Linked DNA regions of Homo sapiens. Changing the gene in region 1 together with any one later gene gives a genetic interaction. Each region holds a gene or a part of one and is shown in the gene's direction. Other genes may lie near its edges.

Region 1 (3,647 bases):
CCCAGCCCAAGAGTTTAATTTATTTTTATTTTAATACCCAGCTTTCACAAGGTGAAAATTGAAGAAATACTGGTCTTGTAGATACTTGTTTTCATTCATACTCTATTGTATAAGGAAATAACAGAATATAAAAATAAAGGGAATAAATCCTGAGCAGTCATTCAAAATTTATTAACTCTAGTTGGCAGCAGTCTAGATATATTGGGGAAATGGATTTAATATAGGCAACACAAAATTTGGACTGAAAGTAGAATACAGTTTTATGTAATTGAAAGTGAGAAAAATGGGAGAAACCACTTAAAAAACAAACCCGAAACTCTAGAAAGAACAAGAAGGTATTAGAATAACTATTGGAATTAAGTTATAGTAATTGCTTGTGAAATAAGTGGAATATTATGTCACATTTATGCCTAAATATAAGCAGTGTTAGATTCTTAATATCCTATACGTGAGTATACTTTTATGAATATACTTTTATTATTGATGCAAAGTGTACTGAATGTGTAAAACTTCAAAAAAAATAACATTTTCCAGTTCCTTATGGACTCATTTTAAGGTACTGTGTTATAAATAAGTACCATTTCAGCAGAGAAATTGGTAGAAAATTGTTTGAAGGAATGGTTTTCTTTTGAAAATAAAGCGAGTATTTAATCTGAACCTTAGTTACTGACATAAAGGAGACTAACGAAGAACTGAAGTGCAGACTTGAATTTTAAGCAGTGTGACATGGGGCTTTGGGCAGACCCGCTTGGATTTGATTATTGGCTTTGTCAGTCTGTAAGCTGGACAGTCTGCAAAATGGGGACAGTAATGCCAATCTCACATAGTCCTTAGTGAGGACTAAATGAAACAATATATGTAAGTACCTTGTAAGTACTGTAGTGCTTCTGGAGAGATGCAGGTCCAGGCTGAGCATCCCTACTCAAAATATTCAAAATCTGGGCCAGATTTGCTGGCTCACACCTTTAATCCCAGCACTTTGGGAGGCCAAGATGAGTGGATTGCTTGAGCTTGGGAGTTCAAGAGCAGCCTGGGCAAAATAATGAAACCCTGTCTCTACAAAAATATTAGCCAGGCATGGTGGCGCACATCTGTAGTTCCAGGCTGAGGTAGGAGGATTGCTTGAGCCCAGGGGGCTGAGGCTGCTGTGAGCCATGATCACACCACTGTACTCCAGCCTGGGCAACAGAGCAAGACTGTCTCAAAAAAAAAAAAAAATCAAAATCAAAAATCCTTCAAAATTCAAAACTTTTCGAACTGACATGATGCCACAATTGGAAAATTCTATGCCTGACCTCATGTGACAGGTTGCAGTTAAAACTTTATTTCATGCATAAAATTATTAAAAATACTGGCTGGGTGAGGTGGCTCATAACCAGCAATCCTGGGAGGCCAAGGTGGGAGGATTGCTTGAGTTCAGGAGTTAGAGACTAGCCTGGGCAACACAGCAAGACCTTGTCTCTACTAAAAATCAAAACAATTAGCTTGGTGTGGTGGTGTGTGCCTGTAGTCCCAGCTACTTGGGAGGCCGAGGCAGGAGGATCGTTTGAGCCCGGGGTGTCAAGGCTGCAGTGAGCCATGATTGTGCTCCTGCACTCCAGCCTGGATGACAGAGGGAGACCCTGCCTCAAAAAAGAAAAAAAAAGTTAGTATAAAATTACCTTCAGGCTATGTGTGTAAAGTGTATATGAAATATAAGTGAATTGCGTGTTTAGACTTGTGTCTTATCCCCAGGATACTGCATGATATATATGAAAATATTCCAAAATTCAAAGAAAATCCAGAGTCTGAAACACTTCTGGTCCCAAGCATTTTAGATAAGGGATGCCAACCTCTAATGGCATTCAGGGCATAAGACATTCAGGATGTTAATATGATGTAATAAGCAATGATTTGATGGAGTGGTCATAAAAGAGTGAGACTCATTTTCATGTCTGGATCATGAAATTTGTTAATTTCTGTTGTGTTTTGTAAATTAGTGCACCTACATACTGTATTGAGAGAAGGACTTTAGGATGCTGTTTTTAAGCTATTATGTGAATTGATCTGCTGAGTAACAAGAAACACTTCCAAGTGTTTATATTATCTTTTTTGTGCCTGTAACTGCTCTTTGTTAGAAAAGGGATATTATGTTATCCCCGTCCCCATTTTACAAATGCCGAAACTGAAGCTTAGAGAAGTAATGTAATTATTAATAAAAATATAGAGCTACCGGGCCGGGTGCGGTGGCTCATGCCTGTAATCCCAACACTCTGGGAGGCTGAGGCAGGTGGATCACCTGAGGTCAGGAGTTCGAGACCAGCCTGGCCAACATGGCGAAACCCTGTCTCTACTAAAAATACAAAAATTTGCCAGGCGTGGTGGCACACACACGCCTATAGTCCCAGTTACTCGGGAGGCTGAGGCAGGAGAATTGCTTGAACCCGGGAGTCGGAGGTTGCCATGAGCCAAGATTGCGCCATTGCACTCCAGCCTGGGTGACAAGAGTGAAACTCCATCTCAAAAAATATATATATTTTATATATATATATATATATATATATATATATATATATATATATATATATTTATATATATTATGTATTATATATATTTATAAATTATATATTTATATATTTTGAGATGGAATATATATATACACACACATATATATACACATATGTGTGTGTATATATATATACTTTTTGTATATACGTATAGAGAGAGCGAGAACGCGCATGCGTGAGTAGCAAAACTAGGACTTGACCTTTGTTTTGACTCAGAGTACTGAAAAGCACTATTACTTTTTTTTTGGAGTTGGGGGTCACTTTTCCATGCTGCTCTGGATTTGGATATTGGGACTGGCCCTGTCTTGGGACTGTCATTAATTATGGCCCTTTGCCTTCATTTAAACTTAATGTTTACAGAAAGTTATTATTGATTATATTGTGAGAGTGTTTGATTATAGGTATAGTGTTATGATATGAAGCTTAAGGATTTGATGAAAATACTAATACTCATTGATAATAAAGATTGGTGGTAAGATGGTAAGATGGTTACTCATATTGATAGTGGGAATGTAAATGAGTAAAACTTTTCTGGAAAGCACTTTGGCAGTATTTATTAACAAGCTTTTAAAAAAAGTTATGCATGCCTTTTGAGCTTGTAATTCCATTTCTAGGAATCTTTATTAAAGAAATCAGAGATGTCGAAAGATATTCGTGTTCAAAGATGTTCACTGCAGCAGTATTTAGCAAAAATTAGAACCTTAATGTTCAATAAAAATTAGAGAAATCATGGAAAATTCATAGAATGGAAATAATATACAGTCATCTTAGATGTTTCAGAAGAATTTTAGTGACATACTAATATGCTAACCATATAATAAGTGAAAAAAGGATATGACACTCTATAAAGTATGGTCCCAATTATGTCAAACATGTATGCAAAGAAAAGAAATAGGTGGTGAGATTATAAGACTTGATATTTTTCTCAGTTTTAGAAATGTTCTTTGATAAACAAATTATTTAAAAATAAATCATAGTTTAAAATTGATATTAACAAATATGAGTAGAGTCAGTGACCATCATTTTAACCAATAGTTTTCACTAATGCAGGTGATTGTGAAGTTGTAAATGGATTGTATTTTCAAGTTAGTTTTCACCTCT
Region 2 (2,778 bases), on another chromosome or scaffold:
TTTTACTAAATATCGTAGTGTTCAAATTTCCTTGATAACTTCATAAACATTCATACATTATATTACATGATTTCTACCTTAAGTCTCTTAGATTTGCCTTTTATCTTTCTTCTTTCCTTTGCTCCAGAGTTCATGTCTTAACCACCATACCTTATTAATAATTTATAATTTGTATAGAATGCTCACATGGTTTCTTACTGCTAAGTTTCTTTGAAAGTGTATTAACCTTGAAAAGCAGTGTAGGTATTTTCCTACCCTCCTGTGGGTCCCAATATAAACCACAAGTGTGGGCAAACTTTAGATTGTTCGGATTATTGAGTTGTTACTAATAAGCCAAACGGAAGCATTTCAGATGATATGCTGTTTTGTTTTTTTTCCTTGTCACTAGGTTCCACTAGCACAGTCAGTTTACTTTAGGTTTATGTCTAATGGTAAAATTGAAGAGCTCTTCAGTGACATTTGAATTGAAGAAAATAGAGTTTATTGGTTGATCTGTTTTATTGGTGATTTTTTTTTCTCCTAGGGATCCTATCTGTAACTAAAAAACCACCACCAGTGGATGGCACTCTTGGCTTTTTCCACAGTGATATTAATTCGAGTAGTTTGTTCTGAAGTAACCGTTCTGGACCAAAACATTCTAGTTTTTGGAAGACTATGGTCATGAACAAATATTCAGTCCTTGGTGGATAATTTTATAGTTACAAGAATCTTTTGGAATTATAAAGGAAATGCAGTCATTCCTCCATGTCCCTTGTTTCTGCATCTGTGGATTCAACCAAGCACAGATTGAATATATGTGAAAAAAAGAAACCAATAAAAATAATACAACAACAACAAAAATACAAGTGAAACAATACAGTGTAACAGCTGTTAACATAGCATTTACCTTGTATTAGATATTGTAAGTAATCTAAAGATGATTTAAAGTATATAAGAGGAAGTACATAGGTTATATGTGATTACTATACCATTTTATATCAGGGACTTGAGCATTGTGGATTTTGGTATCTATAGGGGTCCTGGAACCAGTCCCCCAATGGATACTGAAGGATGACTACTACTTGCCTCTGTTCTTTTGTTTATTTTTAGCTAACTCCCTCTGGAACAGCATTTTAAGAGCAACGTCTGATATTTTTGGATAAAAATGCTAACTCTGTGATGTTGATTCATAAAATGTTCCCAAGAATTGGTATATTAAAATTATTCTGGGCCAGGTGCGGTGCTCATGCCTGTAATCCCAGCACTTTGGGAGGCCAAGGCGGGCAGATCACTTGAGGTCAGGAGTTCAAGACCAGCCTGGCCAACATGGTGAAACCCTGTCTCTATTAAAAATACAAAAGTTAGCCAGGCATGGTGGTGCACACCTATAATCCCAGCTACTGGAGAGGCTGAGGCAGGAGAATCGCTTGAACCCAGGAGGCAGAGGTTGCAGTAAGCTGAGATTGCACCACTTCACTCCAGCCTGGGTGACAGAGACTCCATCTCCAAAGGAAAAACAAAAAGTTATTCTGTATTGTAATTTAAAAATAAAATTTCTTCTATTTGAATTTTTAAAGTTAAAAACGTAAGTAAATCCTGTCATTGCTAACAGGGCCACATATGGACTCTTACTCTTTCCTCTAGACCCCCAGAGTGTAGAATGTGATACACTTTTGTCCTTTTCTCTGAGGATGTGCTGCCTAGTGTCGTGGAATCTGCCTGACCATTGCAAGCATCCAATTTTGTGACCAGTTCTTTTGCAGGAAATTGTTTCTGAGAAGACTGGAAGACAAGAAATATCCCACCTCTTCTAACAAGATCTGAATTGTTCGAAAAGCAGCCAGTGCCTAACTTGTAGCTCCACTTATGCCAACTGTATATATACCTCTCGTGAGCATAGCAAGTGATTTAATATTTTGAAAAGATGGCTAAAATCCTTTTAATGAACAGCACTAAAGTTATATGTATTAGAGGAGAATTATTGAATGAGATGGAGAAAGAGTTCTGAAATTAATATTTACATTTTGGCTTTTTTACAGATAATATTATATTTCTGAGTGACCAGACGAAAGAGAAGGAGTAGAAAGGATGATTCTTCTTTGGCCATCATTTGGTACAGTCTCATTTCCAAGTCATGTATAATCTTTATGGCTTCCAAGGACAAGAATTAAAATACTCTTTTACGTAAAATGAGTAATAATCTTTTTTCTGACTGTCGTTCTCGCTCTCCTTTTTGTGGTATAATCTTGGTAGCTACTATCTGTTATGGCATTTACTAGTTGTTTATTCTTCTAAGGGTGGTTTCTATGTACAGGTATACAAAATAGTAAACTTTCAGGCTCATTTGTGTTATGGCAAAGGGATAAATATGCTTTGGGAAGGTCTCCTGGTTTTTGTATACACTTTTATTACAATATTGATTTGTCCAATCAGTGAATTTACTGAGCATCACTGTATGTGAGACATTTATCCCATATTTGTAAATATTGATTTTCTTAACGTTTTGCTCTGTAGACATGAAGGCAAGGACTGAATCTTCTGTTTGCCTGCACTTTAAACCATGCTTTACATAGAATAGCCACTCAGTAAGCATTGATAGATGAATCATCCCAATGGGATTCTAAGCTTCAGCTCAAATTGAAGGGAGTTGCTGAGCAGTGGTTAGTGTCTAACCTAAACATCTTTAAGACTAACCTACCTTCTTCATATCTTTTGTTTTTGGACAGTTTCATTAGTAGCATTGATGAAACATAGTTTACCAGCAATAAGGACCTGAATAATTAGAGATGAAATCGTTCA
Region 3 (3,647 bases), on another chromosome or scaffold:
GCCTTCGAGACGCCCGAGGAGAAGCGCGCACGGCGGCTGGCCAAGAAGGAGGCCAAGGAGCGCAAGAAGCGGGAGAAGATGGGCTGGGGTGAGGAGTACATGGGCTACACCAACACCGACAACCCCTTCGGAGACAACAACCTGCTGGGCACCTTCATCTGGAATAAGGTGGGCCCCGCCGGGTGGTGGCCTCTGTCCCTGTAGCATTTCCACTGTTTCTGGAGACCCCAACACTTGAGACACTCCCAGCCTGCCCTTGATCGTGCAAGAGTTGGTTTTACACACACACGCATAAGCAAGCTTCTGCCGCTATCAGCTTTCTTTTTTGACACAGGGTCTCGCTCTGTCGCCCAGGCTGGAGTGAAGTGGTGTGATCTCGGCTCACTGCAAGCTCCACCTCCCGGGTTCATGCCATTCTCCTGCCTCAGCCTCCTGAGTAGCTGGGGCTACAGGCGCCCGCTACCACGCCCGGCTAATTTTTTGTATTTTTAGTAGAGACAGGGTTTCACCATGTTAGCCAGGATGGTCTCGATCTCCTGACCTTGTGATCCACCCGCCTTGGCCTCCCAAAGTGCTGGGATTACAGGCGTGAGCCACCACGCCCGGCCAGCTTTCTTTTTTGACTCAGGGTCTCGCTCTGTCACCCAGGCTGGAGTGCAGTGGCGTGATCGTGGCTAACTGCAGCCTTGACCTCCTGGCCTCAAGCGATCCTCCTACCTCAGCGTTTTGACTTGCTGGGACTACAGGCACCACCACCATGCCCGGCTAATTTTTTATTTTTTTGTAAAGATGGAGTCTCACTATGTTGGCCAGGCTGGTCTCGAACTCCTAAGCTCAAGTGATTTTCCCACCTCGGCCTCCCAGAGTTCTGGGATTACAGGCATGAGCCACTGCGCCCAGCCCACCGTCATTTTCTTGCCATTAACTGTGTCTCTTGCGGTGTAAGCTTCAGCCATTCTTTGCCCCGAACACCAGCCCAACCTGAAACCTATCTAGAGAGCCAGCTCTTGGCATCATGTACCCAGGACAGGGTTCCACAGTTCCAGGCGCTCTGTCGTCTGAGCTGGTTCTTTCGTTCTGCGCCTGCCATTTAGCCACCAGTCACACCAGTGGCATAAGACAACAGAACTTATCATCTCTTCGTTCTGGAGTCCAGAAGTCCAAAATCAAGGCGTGGGCAGGTGTGGGCAGGACCCCACTCCCTCTGGGGGCCGAGGGGAGGCCCCTCCTGCCTCTCCCAGCTCCAGTCATGGCCGGTGATTCCTGGGCCCTCCCTGGCTTGCAGCCGCAGAACCCGGCCTGTTCCTGTGTTGTGTGGCGGTCTGCCTTCCCGTCTCTGTCTCCATACGGCCTTCTGCTCTGTGTGTCTGTGTGTAAATGTTCCTCTTCCCATGAGGACACCAGGCATTGGATGAGGGCCCGCCACCTCCAGGATGACCTCATCTTACCTACGTCTGCAAGACCTCATCACTTTTTTTTTTTTTTTTTTTTTGAGATGGAGTCTCACTCTGTTGCCCAGACTAGAATGCAAAGGCGCAATCTCGGCTCACTGCAACCTCCGCTTCCTGGGTTCAAGTGATTCCCCTGCCCCAGCCTCCCAAGTAGCTGGAATTACAGGCGGGTGCCACCACACTCAGCTAATTTTTGTATTTTTAGTAGACAGAGTTTAACCATGTTGGTCAGGCTGGTCTCGAACTCCTGACCTCAAGTGATCTGCCCGCCTTGGCCTCCCAATATGCTGGGATTACAGGTGTCAGCCACCATACCTGGCCAAGACCTCATTTCACATGGGGTCATGATTACAGCTGCAGGGGTTCAGACGGGGATGTGCCTGTGGGGGACACAGCTCATCTGAAGCAGCATCCACTTGTGGAGGGGGTGGAGCAGGCAACGTGTGGGCTGGGCCGACTGCACCTGCTCGCCGGTTGCGCAGTTGGGAGCTGTGGGGTCTCCAGGTGGCTTCTGCCCGATGTCGTCTGAGAACACAACGAGCTCCTTCCGCCTCGGGGCCCTCACACTGCCGCGCCCCTGCCTGGACATGCTCTGCCCCTTCCCCGGCTGTTCTCTTCCGTCAGGCCTCAACTGACACATCCCCTCTTGAGAGACCCCTTCCTGGCCCCTTGCTCCCCAGACCCCCCAGAGTTCTTTATTGAGGCACACACTGCTGCCTGGCACTTCATCGCCACCATGTGCTGTGCACCTGCGGTGTGCTGGGCACCACCGTGAGCTCTGGGCGGGCAGCCATGGAGGAGGAAGATGTGGTCATCGTTGACGCCTGTGGAAGCGGCCCCAGGCTGGGTTGGATAGACCACAGAGTGGCCCGGGTGTCTGGGGGTGGTCCCCAGCCAGGCAGCCTGTGTCCCTGGAGGCAAGTTCTGGGCGGCAGGGGTTCCTGGAACCCCCTCATGGCGACGGGGCACCGGGAGCCTGAGGAAGGTGGTCGGGAAGTGGGGGCTCCGCGCCAGGCTCTCAGACAGCTGCTGGAAGAAGCCAGCTTTGAGGGTCTCCAGGCTGGGACAAGCCCATCAGTGGCCACCCCTGTGCCCCGCTGTGTGGGCGGGGCCCCATGACCCCACAGGTTTGCTTTCAGAGCTGCTGCTGCCCCCACTCACTGTTCCTGCCCTGTCCCACGTGCAGTGGGGGACCCTGACTTGCTGAGGGCGTGGCCTTCACGTCCGAAGCACTCAGACTCCCGGGTAAAGCGAGTCAGCAGGCCCCGAGCAAGGCTCTTCTGTTGGGGGCTGGGGTGGCCCCGAGCAAGGCCCTCCTGTTGGGAGTTGGGGCGGCCCCGAGTGAGGCCCTCCTGTTGAGAGTTGGGGTAGCCCCTTCTTACCCTTTGCATACATCTCACTCCCAGTGGGGGCTCCATGTCTGCACTGAATTGGATGCACTGGGTTTCAGGAGTGTTAAGGAGGGGGTGGAAGACGTGCAGTGCTGGCAGGTCACCTCTCTCTGCAAAACAAGGGCCCTGGTCAATCTCTTGGACGAAGGAGCTGAGGAGGGGGGCGAGGGGGCGGGTCTGTGCTCAGGGCAGGTGTGCCTGGTGCTTCCAGGCCCTGGAGAAGAAGGGGATCAGCCACCTGGAGGAGAAGGAGCTGAAGGAGCGGAACAAGAGGATCCAGGAGGACAACCGGCTGGAGCTGCAGAAGGTAGGCACCCTGCCAGCCCACTGGGCAGGGCCCTCCCTTTCCAGGGCCTGGAGGCCCGCCCCCTTTGGCAGGACTTGAGGGGCTTAAGTGGGAAGTCCTGGGGGCTGGCTTCAGGTAAGGCTGGATCCAGGGGCTCAGACCATGGCCCCAGGAAACTGTTTCCCTCCACCTCTCGGCTCTGCTGGCCTCGGGCCTTCACTCCCACATGCTCCCTTCAGGGTGGCCGAGAGGGCCCCAGCTGATCTGAGCTGCTGAGTCTCGGGCAGGAGGGCCCTCTCCCTTCCCAAGGTCTGTCCACCAGCCCAGGCATCTCCGGACCAATCCCTGTGCCCAGGGCAGCTGGGTGAAGGCTGGGCCCCCATCATCACAGCCCCTCCCCCCGCAGCCCTGCAGACCGCACGGTCCCCGCTGCCCTCAGCCTCCTGTGCCTGCAGGTGAAGCAGCTGCGGCTGGAGCGGGAGCGGGAGAAGGCCATGCGCGAGCAGGAGCTGGAGATGC
Region 4 (4,235 bases), on another chromosome or scaffold:
GTAGAGTGGTGGAGCAAACTCCTATTCCATCTCCTTGCTTCAAAAACCCATTTAACATATTTTCCTTGGATAGAGAATGTGTCAAATATTAAACTGTTAAGAACAGATACTACACTTGATCTTAGCCAAAAGGATAAGTTTCACTGGAGTAGCCTGCAGTAGATCTGGAGCTTCTCTTCTGGAGACCACTTAAGAGGCTACTTTAATAGGTGAAAAGATGATAAGGAATTAAAAAAAGGAACATTTCAGTGGTAACAGAGAGGCAGGGACAGATGGAAATATTTCAGGAATAGCATGGAAGATAATATTCCGCATCACCTGCACTCTGATTCACTCTGGTAAATGGGACACGTGGGGGATCGGCTTCCTAAGCTATCCCAGTACTTCACACATGTTTGTTTCTGTGCCCATGAAATCGCCAGTGTCTTTAAGGTAAGGATCATATATTTTTATCTGTGTTCCTAGAACCCTTTCAAAGACACGCTGAAAGGTGGCCTGTATGGTTGCTGAATCATTGGTAAATAGACATTCATAAATGACTAAAGATTACAGGTTATCTCACAGTAAAATCATTAGCATTAAAAGTTCAGTAATGACTGATGAGACACTACACTGATTACATTTCAACCTAATCTTTCAAAAGCGATTTATTTTTAAAAGTCTCCATTAAACTGGCAAATTCCTCATCCCACAAATAGCCATAAAGACTGGAGTACCAGCTTCAAAATACTTTTTTTTCTTTTTTCTTTTTGAGACGAAGTCTCGCTCTTGTTCCCCAGGCTGGAGTGCGATGGCGCGATCTCTGCTCATTGCAACCTCCGCCTCCCGGGTTCAAGCGATTCTCCTGCCTCGGCCCCCCAGTAGCTGGGATTACAGGCGCCTGCCACCACGCCCGGCTAATTTTTGTATTTTTTTTTTTTAATAGAGACGGGGTTTTACCATGTTGACCAGGCTGATCTAGAACTCCTGACCTCAGGTGATCTACCGGCCTCGGCCTCCCAAAGTGCTGGGATTACAGGCCACCCACCCAGGCCACCGCGCCCGGCCTCAAAATACTTTTTTCCTTAGCTGATTTTATCGAGTGGCTATGTGCCTAAGGGAGTGTTCTAAGCAGACGTTAGTTAGGACCCAGAACGTGGGAAGTACTGGTTTCCAGATCAATTTGGTGGTGATCGTAAACCGATTCAAATCTCTAAATCCCAATTGCACGCCGACGTTACGGAACCAAAAACGCTGACGCCCACATTTCTGGGCGGACGCACAAGTATGTTACGATGGCTCGATTGCTTTTGCCTAGCGGAAACCATTCACTAAGGACCGAGCACCAAATAACCAAGGAAAAGGAAGTGAGTTAAGGACGTACTCGTCTTGGTGAGAGCGTGAGCTGCTGAGATTTGGGAGTCTGCGCTAGGCCCGCTTGGAGTTCTGAGCCGATGGAAGAGTTCACTCATGTTTGCACCCGCGGTGATGCGTGCTTTTCGCAAGAACAAGACTCTCGGCTATGGAGTCCCCATGTTGGTGAGTGGAGTGAGGAGGATCTTCCGCAAGGGGTGGGACCCTCCTCCTTGGCAGGATCAAGACCTGGGAGGGAATCTGTAAAATGTGAAGTTAAGGGCTGGCACTCGGGCTAGGAAGGAGCTAGCGACGGGGTGAGAGCTTTCCTAAAAGCTCTTCCACCAGTCTTTTCCACACCCCCACTTCCCCGCCGCTGTCCCCCACTCCCGGTTGGATTTCAGGTGTACTAGGATCTGTCTGCTTGTGAGCGTGGCGTCTTTCCCATCGTCGAACGCGGTCATTGTTACTACCCTTGATTCACAGTTAAGTAAATTGAAGCTCAGAGAATTCAGTCAGAACCACACTTTAAGCCAAGTTTGGATGATTACTAAGCTTGCTTCCTCGCCCCCAACTTAGCTATGTTTTGACGATACTGTGGATCATTGGGACTAGATGTATTCCATTTAACTGCACGAATTCCTGGTATCTTTCTGTTTCATCTTTCTAGTTTGTGAATTAGCTTAATACTTAGAGTTGTGATGAACTAATAACACCTTGTGAATAAAGTGTTGAGTACGGTGCCTGCCACATTGTAGCCAGAATGATTGCTGTGTTATAATTTCTAAAGCACGTTGAAAACAGCTTCCGTGTTTATATGGTTTCATCCATATCCACACTGAGTTCCCTAAGGATGTCATGAAATGCAGGCTGAGGCTGGCTTAAGACAACCAGAGTTGAAATCCAGATGACTCTTATTTGCTTTTTGATTACGGGCCAGTTATTTTGCTTCAGCAAGCCTTGATGTGTTAGTAAATGAAATAATTAAAGCATATGAACAAAAGCTGCTTTTAAATACAGACTATATTTTTATTTTGTATGAATGTTGGCGCAGATGAAATTACCAGCTTTTCCATTTAAGCAGACTAAAGGAAAGAAGTGATCTTAGAAAGGTAATGGATATTTTACACAGTTTTGAAAAATCCACATTCATCAAATGTGGATTTTAGGAATCTCCAAAAGATTCACCCATTTGAAGTATCTGGGCCAAGCACGATGGCTCACACCTGTAATCCCAGTGTTAGGGGAAGCCAAGACAGGAGGATCGCTTTAGGTCAGGAGTTCCAAACCAGCAAGACCTCTGTCTCTCCAAAAAAAAAAAAAAAAAAAAAAATTGTTGTTTTTAGCAAATTCGATATTAGTATACTAATATATTCGTATATTAGTATATTCTTAGTTATGGAGCCATCACCACAATTTTAGAACATTTTCATTGCCCCCAAAAAAGCATCATAACTAATAGTAGTCACTTCCCATTTCTTCCTGCCTCTTAATGCTGGCCTGGTAAACCACTAATCTACTTCTACCCGTAAATTTGCTTATTCTGCACATTTCATATTAACACACTAATACAACGTGGGTTTTTTGTGACTGGATTCTTCCACTTAGAATGTTTTTAAGGTTCATTCACATTGTAACATATATCAATACTTCATTCCTTTTGATGGATATAATTCCATTGTTTGGATATATTTTATCAATTGATGAACATTTGGGTTGTTTCAATTTTTGACTATTATGAATAATGCTGCTATGAACATTTATGTACACGCTTTGTGTGGAAGTATGTTTTCATTTCTCTCAGGTAGGGAATATACCTAGACGTGGAATTGCTAGGTCATATGGTAACTCTTCAACTTTTTAGGATGTGCCAGATGTTTTCCAAAGTGGCTGCATCATTTTACATTCCCACCAGCAAGATATGATTTTCAATTTCTCCACATCCTTGCCAACACTTGTTATTGTCCATCTTTTGAATTATTACCCTTTCTAGTAGGTGTGAAGTGATACCTCATTGTGGTTTTGATTTTCATTTCCCTAACGACTTATTATGTTGAGCATCTTTTCAAATGTTTATTGGTCATTTGAATATCTTTTTGGAGAAATGTCTGTTCAAATCCTTTGCCCATTTTTTAATTGGACTATGTTTCCTTTTATTGGACAGAGGTTTCTTTAAAACCCAAAACCAACAAATCTGCCAGTCTTTGTCGAGAGGCTCTGCATGCTTTTTTGGGCATGCTTTCAACATTCAGCCATGCAATTTACAGCTCCATGTATAGCCTTCACTTCTTACTTGCTCAGAGCTTCAAATTAGTCATAAGTTGAGAATTTAGGGCCTTCTCAGGTCTTTCTTGGGCATATACATTGCTCTGGGCATGTACACAGTTCTAGTTATTTGCATGACTTTCTAAATTCTCAGGAATATATTTGAGCTTTTCAGAGTCCTCTAAGGACACCTTATTCCTATTATCTACCACATCAGACAGTCATAATGTTAAACAATTACCTCTGAATTTTTTTTTTTTTTTTTTTTTTTTTTTTTTTTTGACAAACGCTTCCTAGGAGAAGTCTGTTCATACTAGTTGAGCTCCATGTCAGGTAAACTACAGAGAGCTTTGTGAATAGCATCTTCCAGGAAGTACCAGACTGGTGAAATGATGACATTTCTCACAGAATGGTGTTTTAAAGAGCTCCAACCTCTCTACCCTCTTCACTTGGTGCCAGGCTTTACATCATGTTTGCAGGCTGTTGGTTTTCATGGTTGTTACGGAGCTTGGGTGGAGGGGTGAGAATATGACAAATTAAAAATGCCACCAAGCTGTTCTTCCTGAGATTCAGGCATTTTTCTTAGGTAAATACTGTGCACATTGTTGCAAGTTTTTGCTTAATTTTCAGAGTTCTAA

What was found. A genetic interaction does not mean that the proteins touch.
Region 2: changes in MAPKAP1 (region 1) and SSBP1 together harm fitness more than expected from each alone (negative genetic interaction), as found in Homo sapiens cells (one large-scale study listed by BioGRID).
Region 3: changes in MAPKAP1 (region 1) and CACTIN together harm fitness more than expected from each alone (negative genetic interaction), as found in Homo sapiens cells (one large-scale study listed by BioGRID).
Region 4: changes in MAPKAP1 (region 1) and COX16 together harm fitness more than expected from each alone (negative genetic interaction), as found in Homo sapiens cells (one large-scale study listed by BioGRID).

What each region holds. Positions count from the first base shown.
Region 1 is NC_000009.12:125,697,209-125,700,855, reverse strand, and holds part of MAPKAP1 (target of rapamycin complex 2 subunit MAPKAP1), read left to right. Parts: intron 1-3,647. UniProt on the Homo sapiens protein: Component of the mechanistic target of rapamycin complex 2 (mTORC2), which transduces signals from growth factors to pathways involved in proliferation, cytoskeletal organization, lipogenesis and anabolic output.
Region 2 is NC_000007.14:141,748,293-141,751,070, forward strand, and holds the end of SSBP1 (single-stranded DNA-binding protein, mitochondrial precursor), read left to right. Parts: intron 1-2,018; coding exon 2,019-2,062; 3' UTR 2,063-2,196; downstream 2,197-2,778.
Region 3 is NC_000019.10:3,620,209-3,623,855, reverse strand, and holds part of CACTIN (splicing factor Cactin), read left to right. Parts: coding exon 1-168; intron 169-3,053; coding exon 3,054-3,149; intron 3,150-3,583; coding exon 3,584-3,647. UniProt on the Homo sapiens protein: Plays a role in pre-mRNA splicing by facilitating excision of a subset of introns. Required for the splicing of CDCA5/Sororin, a regulator of sister chromatid cohesion. Involved in the regulation of innate immune response.
Region 4 is NC_000014.9:70,356,802-70,361,036, reverse strand, and holds the start of COX16 (cytochrome c oxidase assembly protein COX16 homolog, mitochondrial isoform 1 precursor), read left to right. Parts: upstream 1-1,353; 5' UTR 1,354-1,449; coding exon 1,450-1,518; intron 1,519-4,235.